2 separate regions of the Homo sapiens genome follow, and region 1 is linked to region 2. Evidence: fine-mapped expression QTL. Tissue or cell type: whole blood. Region 2 holds a variant in brackets; the other region holds the start of a gene. All regions are shown on one strand. Distances are from middle to middle. Region 1 holds the start of LINC00221 (long intergenic non-protein coding RNA 221). Region 2 has its middle 41 kb from the start of LINC00221.

Region 1 (15,882 bases), 42 kb after region 2:
TAAACTATGGAAACAGATGTACCTTTCATTTTGGAGGAAAAAGATCATAAGTGTGAAAGCAAAACTTACCAAGGGCCAGGTACTGGAATAACTGTAATCTACATAATCACTCTAAGAATTCTAAGAATTTACAAGTGCAATCATCCTCATTTCATAAACTCACCTTAAATAAGAGCTTTCTAACTGATCCCATATATTCTGATTTTGTTTATTTCTTCAACACTTTATTATCTTCAAGGCATTTCACTGATGTCAATTTTAGAAGAATCATATGCAAACAGCCTCTCGTGGTGGTTGAAAGCCCACAGCCTCGCCAGTCCTGTGGATATTTCTGGATGTTCTCAGAGTCTCCATTGTCTGTAGAGAAGAATTGTCCCAATAGTTATTTCACTTTTGTCTTCCACAAAGTTGGAAAGATGGGGATCACTCAGGGGAATCGAGATCAACAAACAGAAAGCCTGAACCCACCATATACAAGATAGGATGTATTTTTTTAGGAATATATTAATTCCCAGACCCTCAGGCTCACATACCCCATGTGGAGGGGAACACACATCCACTCCTTCACTCAAGCCAAGCTGGCCATGCAGCTCAGCTTCTGCAGGCTCAGGACTGCAAGCTCTCCAGTGTGGGAGTGGAGCTAATGGGAGGTGAGGCCAAGTCTCTGCCCTCACAGAGTCTCATGATGAAGATCTGATGAAATATTTCCACAGTAACATTTCTTTGGATATATAAATGTAGAATATATTTTGAAATAATGAATGATGTATCTTCTGATGGATTCATGTTGGGGAGGCAATAGAGGAAAAATAAAGGTAATTTTAAATTTCTGCTCCCAGCTACAGCACTTGATTTTGATTTAGTGCATGACTGTTTGAAATTTTTTGATGCAGTCAACTTCAGCAGCCCAGACCTGGAAGCCCAGCCAATAAATGCTCCAGATTGGGAAATTTAAACTGATGGGAGCTGTTTCATGGAGGAGGAAAAATGCTGAGCCAGTTGTGCGATCATAACTATTGACTGGATAATAGAAGCCTGTGCCCTTTCTGCCAGTACCTCTGGTCCGAAACCTGAGCTAATCACCCTCACCAAGTTGAGTAAACATTGACACCTATACTAAGTACACCTTCATGGTGGTGCATGCTCATGGGGCCATCTGGAAAGAAAGAGGCCTTGTCTCATCAGGAAATAAGGACATTAAACACCCAATAGAAATGGTGTTAAACTACTAGAGGTGTGTTCTCATCCTTCTCATCCTCCATTATGCATTGCCCTGAGCACCCAAAAGATGACTCATTGGCACCTAAAGGAAATCAGACTGCAGAAAAGGCTGAGAAGTGAGCAGTGCAGGATGCACACCTGCTATGAGCTTTGATTCCACATCTGGAGTTTCCATAGTTCAAACTCCATTATACTAAATAGACAAGAAGCATGCCTGCGACTGGGGATTTGGTAAAACAGATCCAGATTTATTCTGAAAAACTAATGCTTATGGATTATTCTTACTCTCCGAGGCCCTGGTCTACAATTTTAAAACATTTACATGAGGGCACACACTCCAAATGAGATTCCCTTGCAGACTTTGTATGACCATGTGTCAGAATGGTCAGAAAACTGTTCAGAAAGTCACATACGAGTGTGTTTTGTGTGCCAAAAATATCTTTGAGACTGAACAAAATCTTTGCAACGAAGAGGTACAACACAGAGAACTGTGACTCTTGGAAGATTGGCAAGTGGATTCACTCACATGCCTGTGGCCAGTGGCAACTATAAATTCCTCCTGATTGTTCTAGATATTGTTTCAAGATGGGTAGAAGCATATCTCACCAAGTCCCAAAGAGCCACATGACTGGCTAAGGCATAATTCAAGGAAATCGTTGCCAGGTTTGGACTCCCATGCACTATACACAGTGACAACGATCTTTCTTTTATTTCAGAGTTTACTCAAAAGGTAAGTCAAGCACTGCAAATCGAATGGAAACCACAGTCATCATGGAGACCACAGTCAGCAGTAAAGAAATAAAAGATAACACCTTGAAGAAGACAATAGCCAAACTCAGGCAGGAAATTGACCTGCGTTGGGATAGATTTTTTCTTATTGCCTTGTTCTGGGGCAGAACGGTGCCCTGAAGTGGGCTTGGGAAAAGTCTCTTTGAAATTATATATAGGAGGCCCTTCCAGACCTCTTGCCAGTAACAGCACCTTTAGAGCTGGTAAAAGAGCCCAGAGTTAAACCATATGTGCAGATTGGTGCAGACCTTGCTAACTGCACATCAGCTTGCTATTTCCAGGCCTGTTTATTCCACAGTGAGCCTCTTCACCCCTTCCATCCAAGAGACAAGATGCCACTACAGTCTTGTAAAAGTCAAAAACAAGATCAGCAGCTGACTGAAAGGTGGAACAGACCCCATGATGTGCTACTGATTAACCTTTGTTCAGTTAAGTTATCCAATGTAAAGCCATGGGTGCATCGCTGTTGGAAAAAACCTGTCCCACCTCAATTTGACCCCAGATAACAGACTACCTGGTCACATAAGCCTAAGGAAAACCTGAAGTTGCTGATAAAGAGGAGACAAGAAGACAGATAGGTAATACCCTTCTGTTAATATAAAATTCTTAATGAGTTCTATAGTTATAAGTACATTATTTCTCCTTATTAAAACTAATCTTTTTTGCTGAATGGGTGGAAGATGGTGGCTTCCCTGCAAAAGAAAACATAGTTGGTTCTGTAAAGAGTTTGCCCATTTCTTCCACTATAGGCCTGCCCTGGCATAATACAAGCTCCCAACGTAAGAATTTATGATTTTCCATCCATTGGAGAAGCCATCTTTTCCATCTATTATAAAAACAGAAGACACTTCATTAATATCACTCCCACTATAGGCTATGCCATATCCAGTGAGGTAGGATGGCTGACAGTGGTGCGAATCCAAGTAATTGGTCAAGCACTGCTATGTGTGAAGAAACACCACAGCATACTCTACACTGTCACTCATGATATGGAATTGTTGCCTCCTTAGCAATGTAACTGAGCCCTTAATATGTGGCTGGGATGACAAGGCAATGCCAGCCTGCAGAGTGGAATCTGTTCTTCCCTCTGGGGTTAGCTACAGCCTGTGGCACTCATGGCTGGCCCTACTTTCCTTACAACTGGACTAAAAGAAGCAACTGGATATGACCTTATATCCCAGGATGTAACTGTCCAAAGTGCATTCTCTTTATGTCAACTGGAAAAGTGTGAAAGACAGACACTACTGACATAAACAGACATCCTAGTTGTTCTGCCCACTAGCCAGCTCTTCCCCCCAGGTGGCAGTCATAGATTTAGAATTGCAAGTAGAGGCCCTGGCTAAGCAAACCACCAGTCCCTTTAACAACACCTACCATGCCATCATCATTCTTACTGAAGAAACCTCACAGATTTGACAAGTGACACTATGAAGCTATATGACCCTAGGTATTGCAACTACAGCCAAAGGTAACACTTGTGTATTAATGAACACTGAATGTTGCATATATATACAAGATTAGTCCCACAATATAACTCAAGCTATGCAAGCATTAGATACCCATATTTCTGCTAGAGATGGATGCCCTCTCTCAGAACCCCATGACAGCATGGTTTAGTTGACTTCCTAACACATGGAAGAGTTTCATATATAGTAGAGCTGGTATTCTGTTCATTGCTATCTTCAATTGCTATGGATTTTATTGCTATCTTGCACTTTAAGTGAGAATGTAATACTGACCTTCTCAAAAACTCCTAGGTCCTTGCACCATAATGCTCCAACAAACACCTACTGTAATTCCGGAGACTCCAGAATATTTCCAACTCCAGTTTAATGGATTCCCTTCCAATACATACAACCTATGCCCTTTCTAAAGAAGTAGCCAGAATGACTATGACACATGTTTTCCATAGAAACGAAATGGAATTTGACAGTGGGGAATGATATACAGGCAGCTTAATTTCAAAATGCATTTTAAACTTAGTATTTGAGGTTTTAATATTATTTTTTATACTCCCTGAAACCTGAAATTTCACACTTACATTTTAATTCAGACTTAATAGCAACAAATAACCAGAACACATGAATTGCCTGTAATCTCTATACCTTGCATTGTAAGCCACATTTCAAGTGTAACCTTACTTGTCAGCACAGTATGTTTACCACAGGCATAATTGCTTGTCCTGACTGTCCAGAAGGCAGGGTGGTATTAAGTATGCGGCCTCTGGAGCTGGGAAGTCTGGCTTTGTATACCGTCTCTGCCACTGCTAACTGGAGGACAATGGGCCAGTTACTTCCTGTACCCCAGTTTTCTCATATGTAAAGTAGGGTTGTTGTAAGAATGAAATTAGTTAATATTTAGTACCTAACAACTAATAGGCATTACATGGTAGCTATTGGTATTGCTATCGTCAGAGAACACACAGGAGTCCATTGTTATTTTTACCCTCCCCCTCCAAACAAAATGTGTAAGACACTAGACATGGTAGCTCTGTAACGGGGTTCGTCATGTATTAAACTGTGTACCCAAATGATATGTCAAAGTCCTGACAACCAGCACTTCAGAACACGTCCTTATTTGGAAATATGGTAGCTGGAGATGTTATTAGTGAAGATGAGGTCTTACTTGAGCAGGGCAGGCCCTCAATGTGGGAAGATGGGTGTCTTTCTAAGTACAAGGAAATTTGGACACAGAGACAGAGACATACAGTGTGCCATATGACAGCAGAGGCAAAGATCAGAGTGGTGCAGCAGTAAACCAATGCATGTCCGGGATTACCAGTCACCTCCACAAGTGAGGAAAGGGCAAGGAAGAATTCTCCTGAGTCTCAGAGGGAGTGCAGCCCAGCTCACACTTGATTTTGGACTTCTAGTCTCTAGAACTGTGAGAGAATACAGTCCTGTCATTTTTAAGCCACCCAGTTTGTAGTATTTCATTTTGGCAGCCCTAGGATATTCATACAGAATTCTTCACCCAAAAGGAAGCACTCTTTCACACAAACAGTCAAAGTCCTGGATGACAGACAACCTGGAGACTGCAAACCTCCAAGGAATCAAAGGAAGTTCTATAAATTCTAGGGGCCCCATCTTTCAAAGGCTGCTCCTCAAGTCCACACCCACACTTTGGAAGGAGAATCCTGCTCTTGGACATGGGATCCTTAGTGAGCCAACTGCCAATAATCCAACATCGTCATGAATTAAAGATCTCTGACATTTCCTCTTCACCAAGGGGAATTCTGTCAAGTAGTAAGTAAAACCCTTCTTCAGTAATCTCCACACCAAACAGTTCTGCATGGCTTGGGACGCCTCAGGAAACTTATAATCATGGCAGAAGAAAAAGGGGAAGCAAGGCAGTCATACATGGTGGCAGAAGAGAGGTTAAACTTTTCTGTCTCTCTTGGGTGTAAAGATATAATCTTGAGGCAAACAGCAGAATCAATTTTCTTACGCCTTGAAATAGACTCCACCTTTCTCCCTTTCACCATAAATATTCCCTTCACATTAATCTAACTTTATGTTTGCATCGAACTATGTGCCTTTTTGGAAGTTCCGGAAGCTAATTTGAGACAGATAGACAAAGTCGGGAGACCCTGATGCAGAATTCCAGAGGTGACTTCAATGTTGCTAGTTAACAACCCAGGCATTGCCCAGATGATGCCAGCCCAAGATCTAGGTGGACTGGGATGCCAGAGAGCCGCCAGAACAAGACGCACAGACCTGGTTCTCAGCCCAAATCTTGCATGCCTTTCTTACCAACTTTTCCTTTTTTAAACCCCTGCCTTTCCTTCAAAATTCAAGTGGTTGCTTGGGATGGGAATGCGGTCACTTCCCCTTTACCATTATGGTTAATACAATAATCTTTGTACCAGATCTCTCTCTTGTTAATTGGATCCTGCAGGTGGCAGATTCCGGACCAGAGTGAGGTTAGAAACTGAATGCACATACTGGGTGGTTCACAGACACGGTGTTCTGTGAAGTTTATGGGTGGATTCCTGGGGAAGCCTGCAAGCCTGTTAGTGATTAGCAGAACCGCATCCAGCTACTGGGATCTGCACGCCAGGTGCCGTGAGCCCCTCACCATGTTCCCTGGTCCCAGCTGCCCGCGGATGGTTCAGCCTTGACAACGGGCTCGGTGTTCTGGGTGGTGGGAGAGCAAGGGGGCCCCTTGGGCAGCGTGCTACAGGGCTGTGAATCCAGGGGCCCACCCGGTGTTCCCTGTGGAGTCACTGAGGGAATGAGGGGCTTCTCAGGGCACAGAGCTGTGCCGCCTTTGTGCAGTGGTGGCTGAATACAGTGACACTGGGCGCGTGGTGAGAAGCGGGGCAAGGTCAGTTCACTGGACCCTCCGCCCTGAGCCTCAGATGAGTCGGGGGTCCCCAGACAGGCCCGGCCTCTGCCCTGCGGCGGACACTGGAGCCTTTGCTGTGGCTGCCACCGAGGAGCCTTGACCTCAAAGCAGCGGGAACCTCTCTACCCACCTCGGAAACCTGAAGGCAGCGGCGGCCTCTCCCAGCCAGGACCTCGCCGGCATCCGGGTCTCCAGGCCCAACCCTGTACCACATAAAGGAAGTCCCCGCTGAGCTACCGGCGGGACACAGCGCCGTTGGGTGGGCGGGCGCGGCGGGGCGGGAAGCACGGAGCAGCTGCCACAGAGATGCGCGGGGGCTGTCGGGAAGTGGGCGGTCCGGGAGGCGCGGGGCTGATGGGACGTGGGCGGTCCGGGGACGCGCGGGGGATGGCGGGACGTCGGCGATCGGAGATGCCAGGGGGCAGCTGGGACGTGGGCGGTCTGGAGAGGCGCGGGGGCAGCTGAGATGCAGGTGGTCCGGGACGCGCGGGGGCTGGCGGGTTGTGGGCGGTCCAGGGATGCGAGGGGGCAGCTGGGACGTGGGAGTTCCGGGGACGCGTGGGGTCGCCAGGAAGCGGGGTCTAGGACTTAGATCCGCTTTCTCTTCAGGCCATGCAGCCCCGAAGCTCCGAATCCTGGGATGACTCCTGTCCATGTTGGAAGGGACCCTGCCAGTCCTGGCAAGGTTCAAAGGCCTTAGGGCAAGAAATGTTAGTAGAGTCCTGGAAGACGATGTGGGGAACGGGTAGCGGCCACCGGATGGTGATCGTTCTTCTACAAGACCTTGACATGGATGGGGAGAAACAGAGAAGAACCTTCCAAGTTTGTCCCACTGGACATGCCCACCACACTTTACCAGCCCTTTCTAGAAGGCCTGTGCGTAACACATGAAAAAGCTCCGCTCGACCTTTCCCTGACCTTTTAAAAGAAAACATTTGCTGCATCTAATCCGCCTAGATATAAGGAGGTTCCCAAATGTATGACAGAGTCAGAAAATTACATGTCTTGTAAGTTACCATGTGCTTGTCTTTTGTTTTCCGTTTTTTTTCGTTTTTTTGTTTTTTGTTTTTGAGACGGAGTCTCACTCTGTCGCCCAGGCTGGAGTGCAGTGGCAGGATCTTGGCTCACTGCAACCTCTGCTTCCTGAGTTTCAACAATTGTGCTGCCTCAGCCTCCCGAGTAGCTTGGATTACAAGTGTGCACCACCACGCCTGGCTAATTTTTGTAGTTTTTAGTAGAGATGGGGTTTTGCCACGTTGGCCAGGCTGGTCTTGAACTCCTGACCTCAGGTGAGCCACCCACCTTGGCCTCTCAAAGTGCTGGGATTACAGGTGTGAGCCACCGTGCCTGGCCGTAAGTTACCATGTGCTTTTTAAAAAAATCATAGCAAAGGGGTGTCTTCTGGAAATGACATTTTGAAATGGTGTTATTAGACCACCCCTGGAAGGGACACAGTAACCACACGTCCACGTTCGTTCAGTGGGTGAGAGGACATGGAGGGGAGACCTGGGCAGGAAGGGAAGAGGGTTCCATGCCAGGCTGCTCATATTTAGAAGACATTTTCATATCATTGTCATTGTTTTCTTGTGTGCGTTTTATTCCTCGCTATTGTATACATCATTGGAAATTCTAAGTATTCTTTTGAAATATCTAGTCTTTCTAGATGTTCTGAAGTGCCTGATGTATGTTAAAATTACAGGTGGTAAAATAATAAATTTTGTAAATATCTTTTTGTTAAAATTCATATGCAGTGTTTTATTTTATTTTGATGTTGGTGGGGGGTGGGGAGGATGGCCAAATCCCTGCTTGATCAACACACATTGCGTTTGTGCTCTGGTTCAGGGGAGGAGAGAGGAGGAGAAAGTGCAGACTTCCAGGCCTCTGTGCGCACCGGGAGGAGAGATTAATGATCATCTCTTCTGTCTGTGTGTTTGTTTTATTTATCTATGGATATCCTGTGTATAAAGGATGAACAAGTCCTATTTATAACATCTAATCTTTTCAGGTGTTAAGTTGCCAGTGTATGACGGAAGCAGCGTTATTAAACGAACGCAGCTTGTACATATTGTGTTAAAATTCATAAAAAGCCAGTCTTCTGAAAAGAACCCTTGGGCCCTCCCTCCGCAGCCTCCGGCGCCAGCTGCAGGAAGACCTGGCCAGGGGAAGGCGGGCGGCACAAGCTGCTGCTGGCTGTGGGGAAGGCGGTGGAGCCCAGGCCTCCACAGGCTCCCCACAGGCTCCCCACAGGCTCGCGCGGCTCTGGTCGCTGGGCTCCGCACGGGCCGCGTGGGGGCGCCTGCTGGGAGCGAGGAGGCGCCATCCTGGCTCGCCTGCTCCAGGAGGACGCTCTGGGCCTGCGCAGATGCAGTTCTCCAGGATGGGCGCGGGCGCTGGGGGCCGCGCTCCTTGGGCTGCTGCGCCTCCACTGAGCCGCCTGGGTGTGAGGACCTCGCGCCGGCGCCTCCGGGAAGGACGCGGAGCCGCCGCGGCCGAGCCCAGGGCTGCAGCTGCTGCCCGACGCCCGCGAGAAGGCCCTTCCGCCACCGCCCGCGGGTTCGAACTTGGAGCAGCTGCTGCCAGCTGAGGCGCCAGCGGCGTCGGGAGCTCCTCAGAGTCAGTGTTTTGTGCTGGATTCGGCATGTCCTCTGAAAACTCGGGAATTTGTCACTGAAATGGTGACAGGAGGTGAGAAGTTTTTTTAGACGTTGCCTTCGCTGACCGGGCGCCGGGCTCAGGCCTGGAATCCCAGCACTTTGGGAGGCCGAGGCGGGCGGATCGCTTGAGCTCCGGAGGTGGAGAAGCTGCCTTCGTGGTAACTGTGGTCTTAAGTTCAGCTGAGAACGATAAATGGCTTTTCCTTGAATTGGCTGCTTTTGTGATTTCTCTCAGGCTCATCTTTCCTCAGTTAAAAATCCAGTGGTAGGTGTAGCTTAGAGACGGGAAATTTTTGGTTTTGTTTTGGCTACACGTAAGTCTTGGAAATTATTTTCTTTTACGTTCCAATGTGAGCAAATCCAGAAGGATGTCAGATTAAACACCGAATTTAACAAATTCAGCCGGGCACGGTGGCTCACGCCTGTAATCCCAGCACTTTGAGAGGCCGAGGCGGGTGGATGATGAGGTCAGGAGTTTGAGAACAGCCTGACCAACATAGTGAAACTCCGTCTCTACTAAAAATACAAAAATTAGCCGGGCGTGGTTGTGCGCGCCTGTAATCCCAGCTACTCAGGAGGCTGAGGCAGGAGAATCGCCGAGATTGCGCCACTGCACTCAGCCTGGGCGACAGAGCGAGACTTCGTCTCAAAAAAACAAAAAAAAAAATCAATCATTGGAATACTGTTGTTCATTACAATTAATGAACGTTTGATACACGCATAAACGCACTAAATTCACGAGTACATATAAGTAAAATAAGCCAAAAAAAAAAAACTACATCCTGTATGATGACACTTTTATACATTCTACAGAATAGAAACTGAAGTGACATGAAGGTCGGGAGTTGAATGGAGAAAAGGTGAGAGAAAAGAGGGAGGAAGGCGTTGCAAGAGAATAAGAGAAAATGTTGAGGGTAATTGATTTGTTTTCTATCTTAATAATGGTGATGGTTACATCAATAATTTCCAAATTGTACATTTTGTGTGTTAATTAGAATTTTATATTATTCAAGCTATTACAAATAAATACCTGTATAAATTTCTTAGGGACGGTGTAAGGGAGATGGATAAATCACATAAAAAGTCAGATATTTCTGAATGTACAATGAATAACCCTTAGCTCTATCTCTATTTTTTGGTAATTCTAAAATGCAGCAGTTTTTTTTAATGTTTTTATTACAAGAAGGGTTTCTTCAAACCACACCAGGTATGCGTAACTCTGGGATAAAGTTGGCTAAGGGAGCTGTGGGATCCGGTGGAGAGGAGCACAGGTCCCGATCCTGGAGCCCATTCTTGTCACATGTGAGCTCCAGGACACATCTCATAGCTCCCTCATGCTTCTGGGTTTACATTCACATCTGTAAATGGAGGACCAATGGGCATCTGCCTCTAACAATGTATTTTCGTGTGTTAAGATAATGTATGCTAAATGTTTACCACAGCACAATCTTTTACTAAGAAATTACATTTTTTCCAAATATTATCATTGTCTTCAAGCCCCACCACCCACTAGAAAACTTCATCTGCTCTGTGCCTTGCCCTGTCCTCAGACATCCTGCCCAAGAGACTTCTATATAGTAGGAGACATGCAAATAGTTCCCTCCCTCTGCTGATGAAAACCAGCCCAGCCTTGACCCTGCAGCTCTGGGAGAGGAGCTCAAGTGCCAGGATTCCCAGGTGTTTTCACTTGGTGATCAGAACTTAACACAGAGGACTCACCATGTTGTTTGGGCTGAGCTGGGCTTTCCTTGTTACTATTTTAAGAGGTGATTCATGAAGAACTACAGATATTGTTTGTGAGTGGATATTAGAGAAACAGTGGATATGTGTGGCAGTTGCTGACCAGGATTTCTCTGTGTTTGCAGGTGTGCAGTATGAGGTGCAGCTGGTAGAGTCTTTTTTTTTTTTTTTTTTCACTTTTTAGCGAACATCCATGGGTTACAAAATAATGGGTTGGCTTTTCTTCCAACACTTTACAGACACCATCAATTTTCCTCTTGCTTATAAGGTTTTAACCAGAAGAATGCTGTCATCATCTTTCCTGTTCTTTTAGAAGGAATGCCCCCTCAACTCATCTCCACTTGTCTGCATGTATTTCTATTTGTCTTTGGTTTTCAGCAGTTTTAATAAGATTCACCTAAATGTGTGTGTGTGTGTCGAGGGGTGTTATGCTATTGTTCTGTGTTCTCTGAGATGCATGGATTCACCGTTTACTCTGTCTCCATTTTTGTGAAAACAATTAGAAAAAAAGTCAGTGTGAGCCTAGAAACAAGCCTCCCTGAAGTGGGCACTGGACCACCTGGGGGCGCTCAGGACCCACTGAGCACAAGAGCCAGCCCCAGGGCAGGTGCAGAGGGGTGTTAAGGTCTGGTTTCCTGTCAGCCCTGTGGCTTCCTCTCCATAAAACAGTTTCCTTTGTGGCACATCTCTGGATTCCTTATCCTTTTTTTCCTGTGAAGTCTGAAGAAGAAACATTTGTCGTAACAAGAGAAAAACTTTCTCATATGCACCAAAGGCAGAGTCACCTACAGTCATTTACTCCTGTTTCTGAATGTCAATAAGGTGTCAATGCTTCTGAAGTTAATCAGCTAAATCTATAAAAGGTGCGGTGTTTAACTCAGCATGGCAGCCCAGCTCAACAGAACTCCAAGGGCCAGTGAGCAAGCAGGCAGGATAAAGTGCATGCTGGGCATTGGGGCAGAGGGAGTTAGCATCCAGTGCAAGAGAAGAAAGCCCCCGTGGTGGTCATTGTCAGGACTCCAAGCCCACAGTTCCAATTGTAGGTGATACTGGGCAAAGGAAGAGAGACCCCACCAATGGTTAGTGTGGATTTCGAGTCTGATGGTTCCACACTCACACTCCAGGTGAATATGAAAACATTTATTAACTCTATTTTTGAGGTGTCTGCTGAGAGCAGCACAGGCCTCTCAAGAAATTTCAAACTGGAATTTCCTCAGTAGACAGGAAAGGAGGCTGGCTCAGGGCTTTATAATGATTTGGTGGTGGGGTTGGGGGTGCGTTTCTACTCAGGAGAAGGAGATTGTGTGATTTAAACCTCACAGGGGCATCAGATAAGGGAGCTTCTGTGATTTCTTACTAGATTTACCACATGCAGGGGATAAGGAGGAGGAAGAATAAACCTTAATTCGTCAGCAACGAGGCACCAAAAATAGGACCTGACGCTTTATTCTCCCTAGCAGCTTAAGAAAATGAGTGAAAAAGAGAGAGAAGAGTCCACTATGTGTGAAAAGCAAACAGGTCTAAAGAAAATAAAAATTTTATTACTGTAAGCACATAATAAAAAGAAAGAGAAGAATGAATGAGACAGGCAGGGGTGCTGAATCAATGTCCTGAGTGGGGCCTTTTCATTATCCACAGTTATCAGTTAATTCTGAAGGTCTCAGGTCAGCTTCCTGCTTCAAAATATCACAGGCCCTTACAGTATATGTGAAAATCCTCGGTTTGTCGTTCTTCACTAAAGTAGCCTTATAATTAGATGTACTTCTGAATTTAATCTTCAGTTGTGTTAAATAAAAAAAAACACAATCTACAATTTAGGAAAGTGAGAGTTTATTTTTATCAAGGTTTACAGCCATCCCATATGCTGGAAAGCATAGCTTTTGGTAAAGACGAGAGAAAGGCACTCCCAGGAAGAAGGGGTTGGGCAGAAGCTTTATGCTGAAGGGTTTGGCTAAACAGACATAATCAACAGGTTACAGGAGGGGCTACTGATGTTCATGGAGGTGGTCCTCACACATGCATACTGAACAAACATGTCTGTAACGTATGACCCCTGTTCACTTACCAGTGGAGACTTAGCATTTAAATTCATTACAGTCAGGCCCTATGTGCCAATAGCAGAAGCAGAAACACAAAGGCACTCAGGGTGCAGCCTCTGTAAACGGCCAGAGCCAGGCCATGGTGAGTGGTCTCTGATCAGGAGAAAGGTCCTGATATCACTCTAGTGTTCAATCAAAGCTGGGGTTATGGCTTGTGGAACAGGGGTCAGTTCATCAGGGGATGGGCTGCAATTGTCTTCATAGTGCTTGTCTCAGTGCCGGTGCTTACTGAGCCGCTAGAGAAAACGAATAACCTATTGGCAGTTAGAAGACAGTTTACCTTTTAAGTGTGGGAGTGAGTGGCAGAACCCTTGCCTGACATGGCTTTAGGTCTTGTTTATAATTTGACATCTTATTGCCACAGAGATTCTGTTCTGTCATTCTTTTGATCTCTATTTTAACATTAGTGTTGGTCATTGTTGTGTCTAAACCGCAAAGGGGAGTGAGTGTAAGAGGCGCGTCTGATCTTGTCATGGCTGGGATCTCAGTTTTTAGGCTTTTCTGGAGTCCCTTAGATGAACAGATGGACTATTTAGTCAGTTGGGGCACTTAGGATTTTATTTTTGTTTTACAGTTCATAAATATGAACCCTAGTATTGACATTGTGCATATTCACTGCTGTGTTGTGGTTAAAATTACCTGGTAAGATTCCCTTCAAAGCCGTTCAAGAGCAATATCCTACCCTGATGTTTCTTCCAGTAAATACCATTCCCTGTTTTAATGTCATTAGAGGCTATTGAAAAGATGTAGGAAAATGATAGCTTAATCTGTCGATGACTGGAGTGGGTAAGATACAGTCATCACTTTCAATGCTTTGTCATGCGTGCATGTAATAGGAAGAGGTGAGCTCTGGGGGAAAATCTCTAAATGTATGGGCCTTCCAGCCACCAAATCATAAGGTGATGACTGATGTCTCACTGAGGGACTTGACTATAATGCTCTAGTGCTAGGGAGAGAAACTTTGGCCAAGGAAGTTCAAGATTTTCTTAAGGTTTTGACAAGTTTAGTTCAAGTATGACAATTTTCTTCAACATTTTCAGAAGATTGTGGATGGGAATGATGCTGAGTTATATAAGTAATTCTAATGCCTTCTGTGTTTAGATAATATTATAAAGAAGACTGTTTGGTATAATGACCCACTACAATATATATACTTTTAGTTGTTACACCATTTCATTTTCCTTTAGGATTTTACTTTCTAAGTTACATGAATCAGTTCCCTAAAATATAGGCGTGCATCTAAAATTTATTCTTTTGTTGAGAATTTTTACGTGTTCCAGAAGATATGAGAAACTTCTTTGCGTGAAGAGCATCCCAAAGTCAGGCACTCCTGTAAAACATGTACTTAATCCTTGTCTTTGGCTTATTGATGAGCTCTGTTGACCACAATAAAACTTCTGTCATGCGGGCTGACTTGACATCAGGTAGAGGAACAGATTCTGAATGTACTACTGAATTGAGTGCATAACCTCCAGTTTCGTTACTGATGTATGATTCATCAGAGATGATACTAGATCAAGGATTTCAATCGGAATCTAATCTAAAAGATGTGAATAAACTTTCCTAATTTAGATAGTATTACTGTGAGCACACTGCTAGTATTCAGCCATGTCTCCTGTCTGTCACACTGAATTCACGCTAACTTTGATCTAAAAGTTAACACTTGTTCTAATGTTCAAATATGTTATTTTTATTCTAATGTCTCTAGATTATTATCTGTGGCTATTTTAGGCAAGAGTGAAGGAAAGCAAGGTTAACTGACTAAAAATGAGAAAAAGCACAACCTAATGTAATGGAAGTCAGGACATCAGCATCTCCAGGCTTGTCTATTTCTAGAGTTCATGCAACCAGGGGATTTCTTTTCTCATTTTTACACAAAGAAACACCCAAATTGTCCATTTCATCTCCCATTGACTCTTATCATCTGTCTCTGTCAGTTTGCTTAGAATTTTGGCCTCCAGCTTAATCCAAGTTGCTGCAAAAACATGATTTCATTCATTTTTACAGCTGCATGGTATTCCACTGTGTATAAGTACCACGTTTTCTTTTTTCAGTCTGTAACTGATCGGCATTTAGTTTTATTGTATGTCTTTGGTACTGTGAATAGCACAGTGATACACACGTGAGTTGATGTGTCTTTTTGTTCCAATGATTGGTTTTCTCTTGGACATATACCCAGTAATGAGATTGCTGAGGGGAATGGTAGCTCTGTTTTAAATTCTTTGAGAAATCTCCAGATTGATTTCATCAGTTCTTGGGCCAAATTATATTTTCACCAAAAGTGTGTAAGTGGTCCGTTATCTCTATAGCCTTGCCTGCATCTGTTAATTTCTGATCTTTCAGTGATAGCAATTCTGACATATGTGAGAAAGTATATCATTTGGTTTTGATTCGCACTTATCTGATGACTGAATATGCTGAGCATTTTTATAGGTTAGTTGGCCACTTCTATGTTTGTATTTGAGAAGTTTCTGTGCATGTCCTTTCTCCATTTTTAATGGGGTTATTTGGTTTATGCTGGTGATTAAGTTCCCTATGAATTACCACCTTACACACACTAAGATAATCAGCATTCAAAAAAGAAAAATGAATAGAAAAACATAACCACTTGTAGGTATAGACATACTGAATTTGGAATGGTCATGGCTTGCATGTTGGTATTGAAATGGGACAGCAACTTTGGAAAATGGTCTTCACAGAAAACCTCATAAATGTAGCTAGTGTCACCACTCACAGAAGTAGATGGAGAATACAACTCAAGTGTCCATCGACTGCCAGAGGGATGAAGACGCCGCGGTGCGTCTGTAACCCACAGGGATGAAGACGCCGCGGTGCGTCTGTAACCCACAGGGATGAAGACGCTGTGGTGCTTTAAAAAGGAGTGAAGCACTGACATAGGCTGCAACTCGGATGGGCCTTGTAAACATTGGGTGAGTGAACTGAGGGAGACACGGAAGTCTACATCCTGAATTGTCCTATTGACATGAAGTATGCAGAGGAGGAAAATCCCTAGAGACAGATCACAGGGGGTG
Region 2 (15,882 bases):
CAGGACACCAGGGGGACTCAGGAAACTAGGGGGTACTCAGAACCACCAGGCGGTGCTCAGGACACCAGGGAGCTCTCAGAACCATCTGGGGGCACTGAGGAAACCAGGGGACTCAAACACTAGGGTGTGCTCTGAAGCACCAGCGGACCCTCAGGACTGCAGGGGGCGCTCAGGACACTAGGGAACACTCAGAACCACCAGGAAGCGCTCAGAACCACCAGGGGGCCCTCAGGACATCAGAGCGTGCTGAGGACCTCCGGGGGCGCTCAGGACCTTCAGAGAGTGATCAGAACACCAGAGGGCGCTCAGAACACCAGGAGGTGCTCAGGACAGCAAGGGGCTCTCAGGACACTAGGGTGTGCTCAGTAAACCAGGGGTCCCTCACAACCACCAGGGGGCACTCAGGACACCAGGGGATGCTCAGGACACCAGGGGCCACTGAGGACACCACCGCTCCCTTAGCAGGCAGCTCCACATCAGGCCCCTGGGTTGGGGCAGGAAGGGTGTTTTCCTTTTGGATCTTGCCACTAAACTCTTGGGAGTTTTTCTCCTTCCTTTGTGGTTTCAAGAAACATTGGTAGATTCTTCTCAGGTATAAAGCTCTGCTTTCTTGGATTATGTAATGTTTTTGGTTTCGGATGTTACCAGAATTACACTGCACTGTGAGAGGATTCATTCCTCGTGTGTGCAATAGTGAATGAAAGCTCCAATGTTAGGGGTGGCTTTGAAAGCTACGTTAGGGGTGGCTGAGGGCAGTTAGCAGGAAATGATCATCACTATAGAAGGCTACTCATTTCTTTGCACATTTCCATAAATAATTGTAGTTTATGCCCTAAAAACTGCATGTTTTCTTGGCCCTTTTTCTTAAATGCCTCCAATCCAAGACCAGTCATCTAATTAAGCTGTATGTCAAAGACCACCAATCAAGTTAAGTCTGTTTAATGAAACACTTTGTAAACAAAAAAGTACATCTGTGTTTGTATAGTCAGCTTTAAATTTTACATTGCTTTACAAATATTAATTTTGTAAATTTAGTCTCATAATTATCGTCAGTATTTAAAATCTTAAAGTCTTGCTATGTTAAATTAAGTAATCTTAGCTTTCTCACTATGAATTAGAGTTACTAAGAATTAGAATAGTAAGAGCATGTAATAAGCTTTTGGTGAAGTTTATAAAGAAAGATGAAGATACATTTTTTGCTTTAAAATATTTTGTTTTCCAGTTTACAGGACCTTTCTACTGGTTTTAAGATAACAATCACTGTTTACATCTAACCCTTTTTTTAAACACCTGCTGTTTAAGATTATAAAATTATAAAATTAAAAACCTAGTTAAAACCAGATTGATCTTTGTAATTTAACAAGATGTTCAGTATTGTTGTTTTAATAAAAAAAAATAGGTAAATACTTAGCTACTAGAAAAATAATCATCTACTTAATCATAAGGTTTTACTTAGGTAAACACCTAAATTTCATGGGTTATAAACATGGTTAATAGGTGAAAAACTTTAATGGACAAGTATTACAGTTTTCATAAATATTCTAGGTAAGCTATTTAAAAAATAAATTAGGTAAATGAAATAAAATAAACCATTTAAATAAACTTGTTCTACAATTTAAAAATCTAAAGTTTAATTAAATAATATATATTATATAAATGTTTATGCATTACTAATTGTTTAAAATATATATACTATAAGGAAAACTTTTTAAAAATACATATTATAAGAAAATATTTTTTGAAAACATTTGTTTTTAGAAAAATAATTTATTTAATTCAAAGGTTAATTATAAAATGTCATAAACATACCCAGTTAATAAGAGAGGTTTAAAGAAAGTTCTAGACATAGAGAAGTACTTTTGGTAAGAAAGGTTAAAATAAAAAAAAATTATATGAGAGGGAATTTTGTAGGATAACTTTTTATATATAAAAGTGACTATTTATGAAAGAATAATGTTTAGAATAAAACAAGATGTTCAAGTATGCCATAAATGGTTCGTGTAAGTCAAAATAAGGTTTATAGAAAGCTAACTTATTAAAAAAACTTCATGTTATCGAGTTGACTATAATTGAAAGGGAAGAATTTATTATAGTCTTTATAGGGATCTGGCTTTCATATGAAAATATACTAACACACTGAAGATTGGTTAGAATGACAAAATTGTCTTAAAGTATTGATTTATTCAATAAAATTATAAGGTATTATAATTTTTTAACCCAAAATTTTAACTTTTGTTGCATCTTGCCATTTTTATTTTTTTCCATTTGAGAAGGCTTGAGAGGATCTCAACTTTTTCATCAGCTCCTTTAACATTGTTTCTTACTTACAGCAGTTAGCCTCTGAGTTAACTTCTAACTGTTGTTAGTTTCTGACTGCTATTATTTCCTGATGTTAAAATCCTCTATCTTAAAGTTCTAAATAAAATGTTTTCTTTCAATATAATATTCAGTGTCGTTGGCTTTTCTTTAACTGTCTAAATTTTTCTATGAAACCAAAATCTTCACTTGTAAAGACACATTCTTCCTAGGTCTGATTAATTCAAATACTTTTTTCATTAGAGTTGACTTGCAGGTTATGTACATGGAGTTCCCCATAGGAAAAAACAGTCACAGTGCAGAAGGCTTTATTTTTGCTATTTGGTAACTGGCATGAGACAAATTTTAAATTTCATTGAAATAATTCCTATGTAAGTGTTATTAAGTTTTTCAACTACTTAGTAATACTGAGAGTTTAAGACAATAGAAATTAATGTTATGACATTCATGTAACTATCTGTATAACTTTTAAAGTCCTTGTGCTGCTACTTTACTGAGCTTTGAATCCTAGGTCTAAAAAGGACACACAACACTTTGGGAGGCTAAGGTGGGCAAATCACCTGAGGTCAGAAGTTAGAGACCAGCCTGGCCACCATGACAAAACCCCATCTTTACTAAAAAATACAAAAATTAGCTGGGCATGGTGGCAGGTGCCTGTAATCCCAGCTACTTGGGAGCCTGAGGCAGAGAGAATTGCTTGAACTCGGGGAGGTGGACGTTGCAGTGAGCAGATATTGCACTACTGCACTCCAGCCTGGGTGACAGAGTGAGACTCCATCTCAGAAAAAATAAATAAATAAAATAAAAAATAAAAAGGACACCAAGTCCAGCTAAATCTTAAACACCGACAGCAATTAAAGCCCCATCTACAGACCTGGAAGAAAATGACAAGAAAAATTGATCACACTCTCAAGACACAAGCCCAGAAATTGAAACTACTTAACCACCCCAGCCCCAGGGACTATTACAGAAGAAGTGGCTTTGTAAGATTGTAAAAGCTAATTTTGAGAGATGAAATCGGTTCAGAGTTTCTTTATAAATTAAACATTAATGCAAGGCTAGCATCTGGGCCCCTGTGCCAGATTGACCAGGGTTTCTTGAAGAATTAATCCACATTTAAATTTAAAAAACAGATAAAACTGTATAAAAGATCTATGCAAATTATTTTTATGGTAAAAGTAATTATAATTTAATAGATTTATTTTTCAGAATTGATAGTTTTAACTTTTCTCATGCTGTTCTTCTAAGGGGTTATATTTTAGAAAATCAATTCTACTCTTTCAAAAATATTTTTTTTCTTTTTTTTAGAAATCACTGAGTTTTCATGTGGCTAAATAAATAACTTATTTTACAATAATCTGTAATCCTATTTTGTAATATCAAGTGTTGTAAACTTTTGATATTTGACAAAGTTCACAAAATAAAATTCTAAATTCAGTCATTTGAACACCCTGAAAAGAAACACATTTAGCTTATTTGGTACAGTTAAATTATACAGGAAGTAATGTCAAATTTGCAATGGTTATTAACTTTGGACTATATTTATATAAATGTGGACTATATAATTTGAATATACTTATGTAAAGAGTATATGTTCCAAAATTCTATTAGATTCAAGTGATTTTTATATGTCTTAGTATCAGTAGTACTTATGATTATAATTTAAAATTTTTGTTTATCACAGAAATAACCAAATTTTCTCCTCAATTCTGTCTTTAACCAGGGGTATTCTAAAAGGTCGGTCATTCACAATTGTTGTTTTACTTTGATTCTTTATCAGGTGGCTTATAATAATCTATAGAACTTTGAGTAGTACTCTTAAATATACAATATACAATTTTGACAATTTTATAAATTGTGCCTTTGGTATAGAGAGAAAAACTTCCATGAGTCTCATGAGACCTGAAGCATTTATGATGATTGTTAATCTAATATCAAGCAGGACAGGATGTAATTGCATGAACTGAATGAAAAGGAGACTGAAATAATTTTTATAACTTATTCTTTAAAGCATTTGCTATTTACTTATGTTTTATTGTTCAGAATCAAGAAAACTTTGTCTTTTAAGCTATTCACAGTTTTTAACAATTTTAACTATACTCTATTGAGAAAAATTGAAAATATAATTTCTTCTTCTCTACATAATTTCTCCAAAATTTGGAAACTGTAGGTATTCTTATATCAAAATAGTTATTTGCATAGGTTCGATAAAAATCTGCTTTCTTCCATAACAGAGCACAATTAGAGACAATGGTCACTTTACCAAGGCTTTAACTTGAATGACATATTTTCTGATTTACTTTATAAAATGAAGAGCTGTACAGCTGATATAAGCCCCTTTGGAAAACTGGCATTTTACCTTTTTTTTTTTTTTTTAACAGGGCCCTGAGCTGTAGTAAGTAAATAATTTTGCTTTCTGACAGGCCCAGGAAACCCAAGTTTTCTTGGATACTTGAAAAAATAAAAAGTAAACCAATCCATATAGCTATCTGATGGCACAGATAAAATATTGGCTGGGCTTGAGGCTTTTAAAGATCTTACCCTTAGATTCCTTATAAAAAATAGCAAAAGCAATGTATGAATAAAACAGCCTATGTACAACAAACAACAACAAAAACAAAAACAATAAAAAGAGAGCTAATATGTTAAGTGATTATTTTTGCTGCATCTTATACAAAAAAATCAGGCCAAGTATAATAAGCCTAAAATTTATTTTACAAATAAATTAGTCCTATTATGATTTTGTCTCCAATAAAATTGGGGAATTATAGGGAGAAATATTCTTTCAAAATAAACTATAGTGCATCTGTTATTAGGTTCTAACCTTGTCCACTTGTTTTTCAATTTACAATATTTTCTACAATTTGGACTCAATTTTAAAATATTTCTTTCCACAAGTCTCCAAAATAACATTTTCAGTGATTTTCTTTTTAAATATTTTTTTCCTATTTGAAATCTCCAGAAGGTAAACTGTGCTTTCTTACAGCTAGTCAACTTAAACTCTAAAATAAAATAAAATCAATGATATGGTTTGTCTCTGTGTTCCCACCAAAATCTCAGTTTGTATAGTAATAATTTCCACATGTCAAGGGTGGAAGGAGGTGAAGATAATTGAATCACGGGACGTGTTTTCTCCATGCTTTTATCCTATTAGTGAGTGAGTTCTCACAAGACCTGATGGTTATATAAAGGGCCTCCCTCTTCACATGACACTTCTCTCTCCTGCAGCCATGTGAAGAGGTACGTGTTTGCTGCCCTTTCCATCATGACTGTAAGTTTCTTGTGGCCTCCCCAGCCATGTAGATCTGTGAGACAATTAAACCTTTTTTTTAAATAAATTATCCAGCATCAGGTATGTCCTTATAGCAGCATGAAAATTGTCTAATACCAGCAACTTAATTATATACAAAAATTCCTTTTATACCCTCCTACTGTGAAGGGAAAATAAATCTTGAGACCCCAAAATTACTAAGCTAAAGAGAAGAGTCAATGTGGTGTTACAGGAGATAGAAAGAAATTATTTAGGTAGATAGTTGGGATGAGAGAGTCTCTGGCAAAATAACTTTTCTTCTAACAAAAATCAGCTCAGAAATAACTTCTTCTCTAATTACACACAGTTCAAAGAAATCACTTCTAACAAAAAGCAGACTAAATAATCAGGCTGTGAAATATAGATAAGCAACTCTGCCACAGAGAGGGTGTTTCTGGGTGTAATCACCAAACCTCACATATATAGGATGGGTCCCAGTAAAAACAGTGAGCCTTAATAAGCACATTCCTTTTCTTTTCTGGGAGTACACTAAGATAGAAAAGCTGGAAGCTTGCACGGGGTTTGCGACGCCGGCACCTGTGAGGAAGTACCTGGGACCAGGCAAGAAAACCCTTCTGGCCTTTCTTAGCACATGCACGGTGGAAGAAGATAAGCAGTGTGGAGGAGATCAAGCAAAGTGCCCGCCTGCCCAATGAAAGCATGAGGTGGGGTTGCCAGAGACTTTGCTCTATGCAGATGGCACACATTGTCCTAACTGTTTTTGCACCCTATGCTGATAAGACACCGTCTCCCCACGAGCACATTTATAAAAATCCTTACATTTTACTGCAGCACGATAACCCATTTGGGACCCCTCTCTGTGACAGACAGCTTTTTTTTTATTTTACCTATTAAACTTGTGCTCTAACCTCACCCTTAGCATGTCTGCGACCTTGATATTCACGGCCGTGAGACAAAGAAGTTCGGGTGGTATTCCAGACAACGAGGCTGCCATACTGGAAAGTGCTTTGGGCAAATCTGCCTCCCCTTCTGTTTAAAGTGATTCCTCTGAGGCTAACCTGAGACCAATACACAGCTGATTGCTTCCTCTTCACTATCATTTATGTAAAAACGAAGATCCACTGAGTCAGACTAAATTGTGCATTCAGTGGTAGGCTAATAAAGTACTCAAAAGAACGCAACCTATTGTCTCTTATCTACTTCTAAACTGCAGTCCGTGCTTTTGATTCGTCCTGCCTTACAGGAAAAATCCAAAGTACATTTTACATATATTGATTGATGTCTCATGTCTCTCTAAAATGTATAAAAGCAAGCTGTACTTCAATCGCCTTGGGCACATGTCTCAGGACTTCCTGAGGATGGTCATGGGTGAGTTATCTTTGGCAAGATAAACGTATTAGTCTGTTCTCCTGCTGCTAATAAAACATAACAAAGACCGGGTAATTGATAAAGGAAAGAGGTTTAATTGACTCACAGTTTCACATGGCTGGGGACACTTCACAATCTTGTCAGAAAAGCAAGCGACATCTTACACGGTGGCAGACTAGAGAGAGCTTGCTCAGGGCAACTCCTCTTTACAGAACCATCAGATCTAATGAGAAGTATTTACTATCATGAGAACAGCATGGGAAAGACCTGCCCCTGTGATTCAATTATCTCTCATTGGGTCCTTCCCATGACACATGGGAACTGCAGGACTAGAATTCAAGGTTAGATTTGGATGGCGACACAGACAAACCACATTAGTAAACTTCCTAAATTGACTGAGACCTGTCTCAGATATTTGTCGTTTACCTTATTCATGTTCAGCCTTCAGAGTTCCAAGGCCTATATCAGTTTTCCAGGATTGTTTCCCCTTTTTGTTGTTTGTTATTTCCTCCTTTATTTATATGTTTTACTTCTCTTTTTTCTCCCACTATTTTCTTATTAATGGATGTGAAACTTCACAACATTTGAAATATAGGTAACAATGAACTATAATAACAACTTGGGACCTATTTATCTAGAAATAATCCGTCCTACCCATGAAAGAAAAAAACAAAAACAAAAACAGAAGCCCAGAAACTTATTTTGTGGTAAAATGCTTCCTCTGAAATATTTTGGAAAGGAAAAAGTTGGGAAGATATGAAATGAAAATAAAAACTTATGATGTCAATTCATTACGTCATGAGGGGGGAAAAAACTAAAGGATGATCCATGCAAGAAACTGATTTTCCTTTCATTCCTAAGAAAATAGCCACAGACAGATAAAATGTTAGATATCTTCACAGATAGCTACAATTTGTTCATCTTTGAAATACTTAGTGCAGGAGAACCACTTGATATTCTATTTCCCTATGTGCTTCTTTTTCATTACTACATGTAAGTTTTCATGCAATTCCTCTTTCCCCTCTAGCCAGCTTTTCCCCTTTATATATTGAAAGCCCTAAAAAATGTCTTTTGGGAATGGCACTAACCACGCATTGTTTCTGTGATTACTTTTCTTCCAAGCATGCCATAACTTTGGAAAAATTAATTTTAATTTGATTGAGAGCTCTCTCAGAAACCTTTGGTTACACTAGGCAAAATCCAAAATCAGGAGCCAATTATTGTAAAAATCAGCCATAGTACACTGTGCGTCTGTGTGTGTGTGTGTGTGTGTGTGTACATGTGTGTTTTAATTTTTGCGAGCTTTGAGCCATGTAGTTCTCTCTGTGGAGATGCTATTTGGCGTGACTTTGAATAGAGAATTCTAAAAGAAATAAGAAGCTCCTATGAGTTCTCTGAAAGTTTCTGGACTCACCATGGATCTTGACTGTGTCACTGCATCTGACAGTCCCAGGGAACAGACTCTCTGGTGGTTTCATAGAATCTATGCTTGGGCTCTCCCTGCAGTTTACTGGGTATAGTAATGACAAATCACTGTTTCAAGAGACAATTTCAAAAGCATTAGATGCTGCTGAGAGAGGATTGTGAACCAGGGAACTGCCCCTTTCTTCTTGGAGAGCGACATTGGGAGAATATGCTCTGTGAGCCCAAACAGCATCCTCCCCTGCAGGGTGAGGGCAGAGCTGCAGG[A/G]CAGGCCCAGAACCCACTCCACACAGATGTCAGCCCTGGAGCTGCTGCAGAGGAGTCTGAGGAGAAAATTTTTCCAGCACCTGAATTACACTTATTTCAAAACAAAAATGCAATTAAAAAGTTAAAACAAGTAATTAATGTCCAGGCACAGTGGCTTACACCTATAATCCCAGAAATTTGAGAGGCTGAGGTGGGAAGATTTATTGAACCCAGGAGTTTGAGATCAGTCTGTGAAAAATAGTGAGGCTTCATCTTTATTTTTGAAAATAAAAATAAAATAAAACATAAAAAATTTAGCAAAAACTACAATGCGTCTTTACATACCCCATCATACTTGAAGCATTTACCTAACCCAATGAGGTGATGAGGACCCAATTTGAAAGGAGAAAATTTTAGACTTTTCATATATCTTAATAGTTGGAAGATGTAGAAGAAATATATTTATATCAATTAAATGTGTGCAAATATTGACAGACACACCATACCAGGAGTTCAACTTGCAAAGGGTAAAACCAAAAAAGTTTGAGATTGTTAATGTGCCATTTGAAGGTGAGATCGTTTTGAGGACCATGTCCTGTGAGAGTTTGTTTCTCTATTAGAGGAGTTCTGTACTCATAAAGTTCTGGACATGCCAGGAGACAAGTATCAGTAAACAAATATCAGAACTTGAACTTCAGCTTCCCACTCTTGCATTCTCCATGTGTCATCTCTCTACTATTTCTCATTCTAGATCAGGTCTTTAGCTATGAAATATTCCACCTAATTAACATGTAAATAGATTGAAGTCCACAGAGTTAAATATGTATATTTTCTCCTGTTTTTCCCAGTTGTTCCCTCCCACAGCTCCAATATTCTCCACTGTTACCATCACCTTCTAGATCTGCTGCCATGCCCTGCAGATTAAGGATTTGATTCCACGACAGAGAGGAGGTGCATTTCAATGGAACTTTGGTGAGAACCTCGGTTTTTATCCCATTTCCTCTGGGGCTCCACCAGTGCATCTGGAATAATGGGTTCAGTGGCTGGCCCCTGCAGGGTGATTCCTTAGTTCTGTAGTGAAGATGAGGGAGGTGGGTCTGAATGCATTTCAGAAGTATGGGCTCTCCTCTCTCAGACAGACACTTTGGGAAAATAAGATTTTTCTGACTGCACCCATTCTAGAACAAAGGAATTCAATTGGATAAGAATGCTGATAAAAAAAAACTCAAACCAAATTAAATTTAAAGGAGTTTAATTGAGCAATGGATGATTCATGAATTGGGCAGCCCCCGGAATCACAGCGGATTGAAAGAGAATTCAGTGCAGCCATGTGGTTGAAGAAGATTTATACATTTTTTTAAATGATGTACAGAAATCAGAAGTGAGGTACAGAAACAGCTGGATTGGTTACAGGCTGATGTTTGTCTTATTTAAACACAGTTTGCACACTCAAGAGTGTATGAGTGGTTGAGGTATGGCTGCTGAAATTGGCCAACGCTCAGCTGTTGGTGAGGTGCTCAGGTACATACTCCTGAGTTAGGTTTTCAATCTCGTCCACCTATTCAGGTAGGTTACAGTTTGTCCACAAGGACTCAAACATAGAAGTACGGAGTCCTCCTCAGGCCATATTTAATTCACTTTATCAGTGCCCTTCAGCATATGGTTCCTGAGAATTTCACACGGCAACATGTTTACCACCCTAGAATTTAAGCAATCCAATACATGTAATAGGCTGTATTTCACATGGCAACTTCTGCCTCAGTTTAGCTAACACTATGGCTTTGTTTCTCTCTACAAGAACTCATTTCTCCCAAAATTTCCATTTTCCTGAAAGGAAAATAAATCTTTGGGACCCTCATATCACTAAGCCAAAGGGAAAAGCCAAGCTGAAAACTGTTTGGGGCAAACCCACCTTCCATTCTTTCCCTAAAATGATAGCTGTTAAGGTGTTTACAAGCTACATATCTCCTTCAAAATTTGACCGCACAGAAAATCCTTGTTGACCAAGGACATTGTAGACCAAGCAGAGAGTCATTTCTCTGCTCACGTAAGTCAAATGCATATCTGATTGCTCCCTTTGCTCTATTGTTTCACTAAGCCAGACTAAGGCCTATGTGACTATTCCTGTAAACTGTGCATTCAGTTAAAGGCTAATCAGAAACTCAAATAATGCAACCATTTCTCTCATACCTACCTATGATCTGGTAGCTCTCCCCCCAACTTCAATTTGTCCTGCCTTTTTGAACTAAATAAATATACCTTACATATATTAATTAATGTCTCATGTCTCCCTAAATTGTGTAAAACCAAGCTGTGTCCCACCACACTGGGCACGTATCATCAGGACTCCCTGAGGCTGTGTCACAGGCATGTCCTTAGTCCTGGAAAAATGAACTTCCTAAATCTATTGAGATTAGTCTCAGATACTCTTTGGTTTATAAGTATGTTTTCTATCTCATAACTTCAATTATCTGAAATACTAAAGGAAATCTGCCAAATAACACATTATCTTGTTTATCTGTTATTGTTGTTGCAAAAATAAATATATTTATATAATTTATGTATAATTGATCATCTTTGTACATTACCAAACTGAGTAGCAGATTTGTTAGTAAGACCCAATGTAATAAAAAATTCAAATATCAATTAGCAACTTAATAGAAAAACAAATTACGCTACATTTGTTTGCCGAAATGCTACCAATTTTTATAAAAAAATAAACACATATAACATAAATGGTTTAATTCTCAGTATTTCTATTGAGAAAAATAAGCCAAATACATAAGCGAATATACTATATTATTTCATTCTTATAAATTCTACCAAATAAATACTAGTCTAAAGAAATATGAAAACATCAGTAGTTTATAAAGAAATGGTAGAAAAAGGGAAGGGGAAAAAACAAATAATATAAAAGATCAAGAGGAATGCTGAGGGGAGTTGACTTGTTACCTCATTGAAAATAGAGATTATTTTTTCAAAGTTTACTATTGCACATGTTAAATATGTGAATTTTATCATCTGTCAGTTAAAACTCATAAAATTTATTACAAGTAAACAGCCGACATTTTATACAAAAAAGGGATGATAGGAAGAAACAAATAAATACATTAAATGTCAGATACACCAAAAACTTATCTGCCTGACCCCTAGTTGTCTCCGTAATTTTTGGATGAAAACCAGCCCACCCCTGACCCTGCTGCTCTGGGAGAGGAGCCCCAGCCTTGGGATTCCCAAGTGTTTGCATTCAGTGATCAGGACTGAACACACAGGACTCACCAGGGAGTTTGTGCTAAGCTGGGTTTTCCTTGTTGCTATATTAAAATGTGATTCATGGAGAACTAGAGAGATTGAGTGTGAGTTACATGAGTGAGAGAAACAGTGGATATGTTTGGCAATTTCTGACCTTGGTGTCTCTGTGTTTGCAGGTGTCCAGTGTGAGGATCAGCTGGTGGAGTCTGGGGGAGGCTTGGTACAGCCTGGGGGGTCCCTGCGACCCTCCTGTGCAGCCTCTGGATTCGCCTTCAGTAGCTATGCTCTGCACTGGGTTCGCCGGGCTCCAGGGAAGGGTCTGGAGTGGGTATCAGCTATTGGTACTGGTGGTGATACATACTATGCAGACTCCGTGATGGGCCGATTCACCATCTCCAGAGACAACGCCAAGAAGTCCTTGTATCTTCATATGAACAGCCTGATAGCTGAGGACATGGCTGTGTATTATTGTGCAAGAGACACAGTGAGGGGAAGTCAATGTGAGCCCAGATACAAACTTCCCTGCAGGAACGCTGGAGGAAACCAGCTGCAGGGGGCGCTCAGGAGCCACTGATCAGAGTCAGCCCAAGAGGCAGGTGCACACAGAGGCTGATTTCCTGTCAGGGTGTGGGACTTCGTCTTTTTACCATTTCTCTAGGGAACCTCTCTAAGTTCAGAATTCTGTGCTTACCAGTGTCATCTCTACATGTTTTTTAATGATTATTTTAATATGAGAACCTATTCTTACATGCACAAAATGCAGATGGATGCTTACAGAGATGAAAAGTCCTCAACCATGGTCACCAGGATCAGCCTTGAGGAAACTCAGGGGTGCCTGGTGAATCTTCTCCAGTCAGACTCAGGACAGAAACCTCTGTGAGATTCCCTGACTAGATCAGTCTTCAGGAATTTTGATACCAGCCAATAGAGAGGCTGGGACAGGGTCAGTGTCATGTAGAACCTCACAGGTTTCACGTCTGACCCTTCTCCTTCTCCTGACACTAAAGTATGCAAATCAGTATCAGCACTGATCTGGGTCCCCTTTTGCTCTTAAACCATTCTATTTCTTTTTATTTGTTGTTGTTCTTGCTTTTCCTCGTACTTCTCTTGCTCCCTGTAAAATGGGGAGGTGTTTCTTGCTGCAAAAGCCCCAAGCCTCAAGCCCATTCCCTGCAGCTCAGGCGGGGCTCAGGCTGTGGCTCCTGCAGCCACATGGGAGTGGCTGTTGGGGCTTTCTCTTCTCCCATTGCTCAGCACCCTCCAGTGTGTTGTGTGGAGACTACCTGGGAACGAATGTGGACAACAGGAGTGAAGGGGATGAGCTTGCGTGGACAAAATGGGATGTGGATGTGAAATTTATCCTGTGCTGTACAAACAACCACAGATTCAACTTCCTCACCAGTAGTATTAGAAAGAGGGTGTGAAAGTTGTCAGAATAAAAATGGAAACACTTGTGTTAACACCCTGACAAATGGAACTAGGAATGACCATGAAGAAGTTTCTCATGCATATACTCCAGAAAACAAGAACTACCGTAAATGGATTCTGCTTAACCACAGCCTTGGATAGAAGAAACCACAACCTTACAAAAATCACTTCTACAAGGATATCTTCCCAGCAACTCCCTGTTTAACCCTACAGTGATGCCACCCTTAGTCCTACAAAAATCACTTCTACAAGGATATCTTCCCAGCAACTCCCTGTTTAACCCTACAGTGATGCCACCCTTAGTCCTGATTCTAGGAGCACAGGATAATCCTCTCAAAATGACTTATGTAACCCACCTCATTTTCACTGCGTAAACCTATGGATTCACATCCTGGAGTCACTGCTGCATTTGTTCTTAATGGTCATTAGCCCCTTTCACAATATTTGAGGCTGTTTTTCTCTGATGTCTCTTCTAAAATAAAGAATTTCCAAGTGGACAGCAGTAAAGAAGCTATTTAGGAAGATGTAATGGGAAGGCATCTTTAACATTCTGTTGAATGTTTCCACATGGCACTTCAATCCCCTAAAATACTTTGCTGTATCAGCATGTGATGAATCGGAGTATAATATTGAAGGTAAAATGGGAAATACATGGGCTTTTGATGAATCAAGTCATAGGATGAGAATGTCTGTGTCCTTGAGGAAGGAGACCATGGGTTGTAAGTTCTAGTGGAGGTACCTTTGGCAAAGGGAGTTCATGAGTTTCTGAACCTTATGCTACTTTTAATTTAAGGAAGCAATTTATGATGTATGTTTACTTAAATCTTTCCAGAGACATTTGTCAGTAAGGACAGGGTAGCATTTGTGTAATAGTGATGACTTAGAGAGTTATTTTGTAATTGCTCCTGTAAGGTATGCACATTGCTCACTTGATACAGAAGTTCAAATGTCACAGGTGGAAAAACAGGAATAAAGGTGGGCAGATCACAAGGTAAGGATCACAAGGTTAACCATCCTGGCTAACACGGTGAAACCCCATCGCTACTAAAAAATACAAAAAATTAGCCAGGCATGGTGGCGGGCACCTGTAGTCCCAGCTACTCAGGAGGCTGAGGCGGGAGAATAGCGTGAGCCCGGGAGGCAGAGCTTGCAGTGAGCCGAGATCACACCACTGAACTTCAGCCTGGGCAACAGAGGGAGACTCCATCTCAAAAAAAAAAAAAAAGAAAACAGGAATAAAGCAAATTTTATGAACTGTCATGACTGTAGTTTTTGGCAAGGACATTATCATGTCAACCTGTAAATAAACAGACAACAATAAAACATATCAAATCCATGGGGAGTCTGACCTGTGTCCCTCTGTCTTATAAGCACAAGGCTTTGCCACATCCAAAATATTATTCAGGCTCCAGGGTATAAAATGCTTTTGGACTGTGGAAGGTAACAGCTCTCCCCTCAGGCAGGGGTAAGGTATCTGGGGAATGCAGAGTTGTGTTCATAAGGAAGATGTCATTATCGTGTCTTCTCCTGTGCCTGGTAGCAGGTCCTGAAGGTGAGCGTCTCAGATGTCAGACATGGGTCTATCGGGTTAGGATAGGTACATGTGACTGACAGGGACTGATTCTCCATGTAATCACATGCCCTGTCCCAGGAGCAGCTGCAGGAGTCAGCCCTGGACCTGAATAGCACACACTTACCCTCTGCCTCACCTACACTGTTACTGGCCACTCCGTCACAACCAGTCCTTACTAGTGGACCTGGATCTGCCGGCTCTCAGGGAGGGGCTGCAATGGATAAAATCCATTGCTAGTGGTGGTGGGAGTCCATTTGTCTTGTGGAAAATGGCAGCATTTCCTTATTTTATAAGGCATAATAATGCTATGTTGTGTACACATACCACATTGTCTTTATCCATTTGCCCATTGACAGACACTTAGTTTCCATATCTTGGCTGTTGTGAATACAGCTGCAATAATCACAGGAGCGCAGGTATCTTCACAAGGCGGTAATTTCATCTCTTTGGGTATATTTCCATAAGCTGCATCACTGGTCATATGGTATTTCTGTTTTAATTCATTTAGGAGCCACCACACTGTTTTGCCTAATGGTAATGATGGGAATACAGAATGTCATAGCCGCTACGAAGAACAGTTTTAGATTTGAGGTATAATCCAAAAGCAAATAATGTTTGATCAGGGTTCTCATATGAGGCTCTAATAAATAAGTCCAGAAAGTTTTCCCATCTTGGGCAAGGATGAGTTTGCCCCTAATTGTCTTTGAGGAAGAAGATTGGCAGAACGTGAGATGGAGTCTGTTGGCAGGATTCAGGATTCAGTAATAACTAGTAATGGCACAGAAAAATAGAGAGATAGAGACATACAGAGAAAGAGAGAATATGAATCTCATAAGAGGAAAATTTGCTAAATATCAGCATTGGGTTTTCAGTCATAGACACATTTGTATGAGCCAGGAACCATGGAGTCAAGTGAGGAGTGGAGAATATGTTCAGTCCAAAAATCAGCATATTCTCAGAGGCACCCATTGCCCCATCACACAGGTGGAGAATTTTGGAAACCAGT

The links.
Region 1: LINC00221 starts here. The variant in region 2 is fine-mapped to the expression of LINC00221 in whole blood (TOPMed, PIP above 0.99).

Annotation. Positions count from the first base shown.
Region 1 is chr14:106,473,243-106,489,124 of GRCh38, reverse strand. It overlaps LINC00221 (long intergenic non-protein coding RNA 221), which reads right to left and starts at 6,686. Exons shown (of 3, transcript NR_027457.2): 1 at 6,488-6,686; 2 at 164-357. It also overlaps IGH and the pseudogene IGHVIII-44.
Region 2 is chr14:106,515,052-106,530,933 of GRCh38, reverse strand. It overlaps IGH, the pseudogene IGHVII-46-1 and the pseudogene IGHV3-47. Among named protein-coding and RNA genes, the nearest start is that of LINC00221, 41 kb to the right of the region's middle. The variant A/G (reference allele first, on the strand shown) is at 8,645.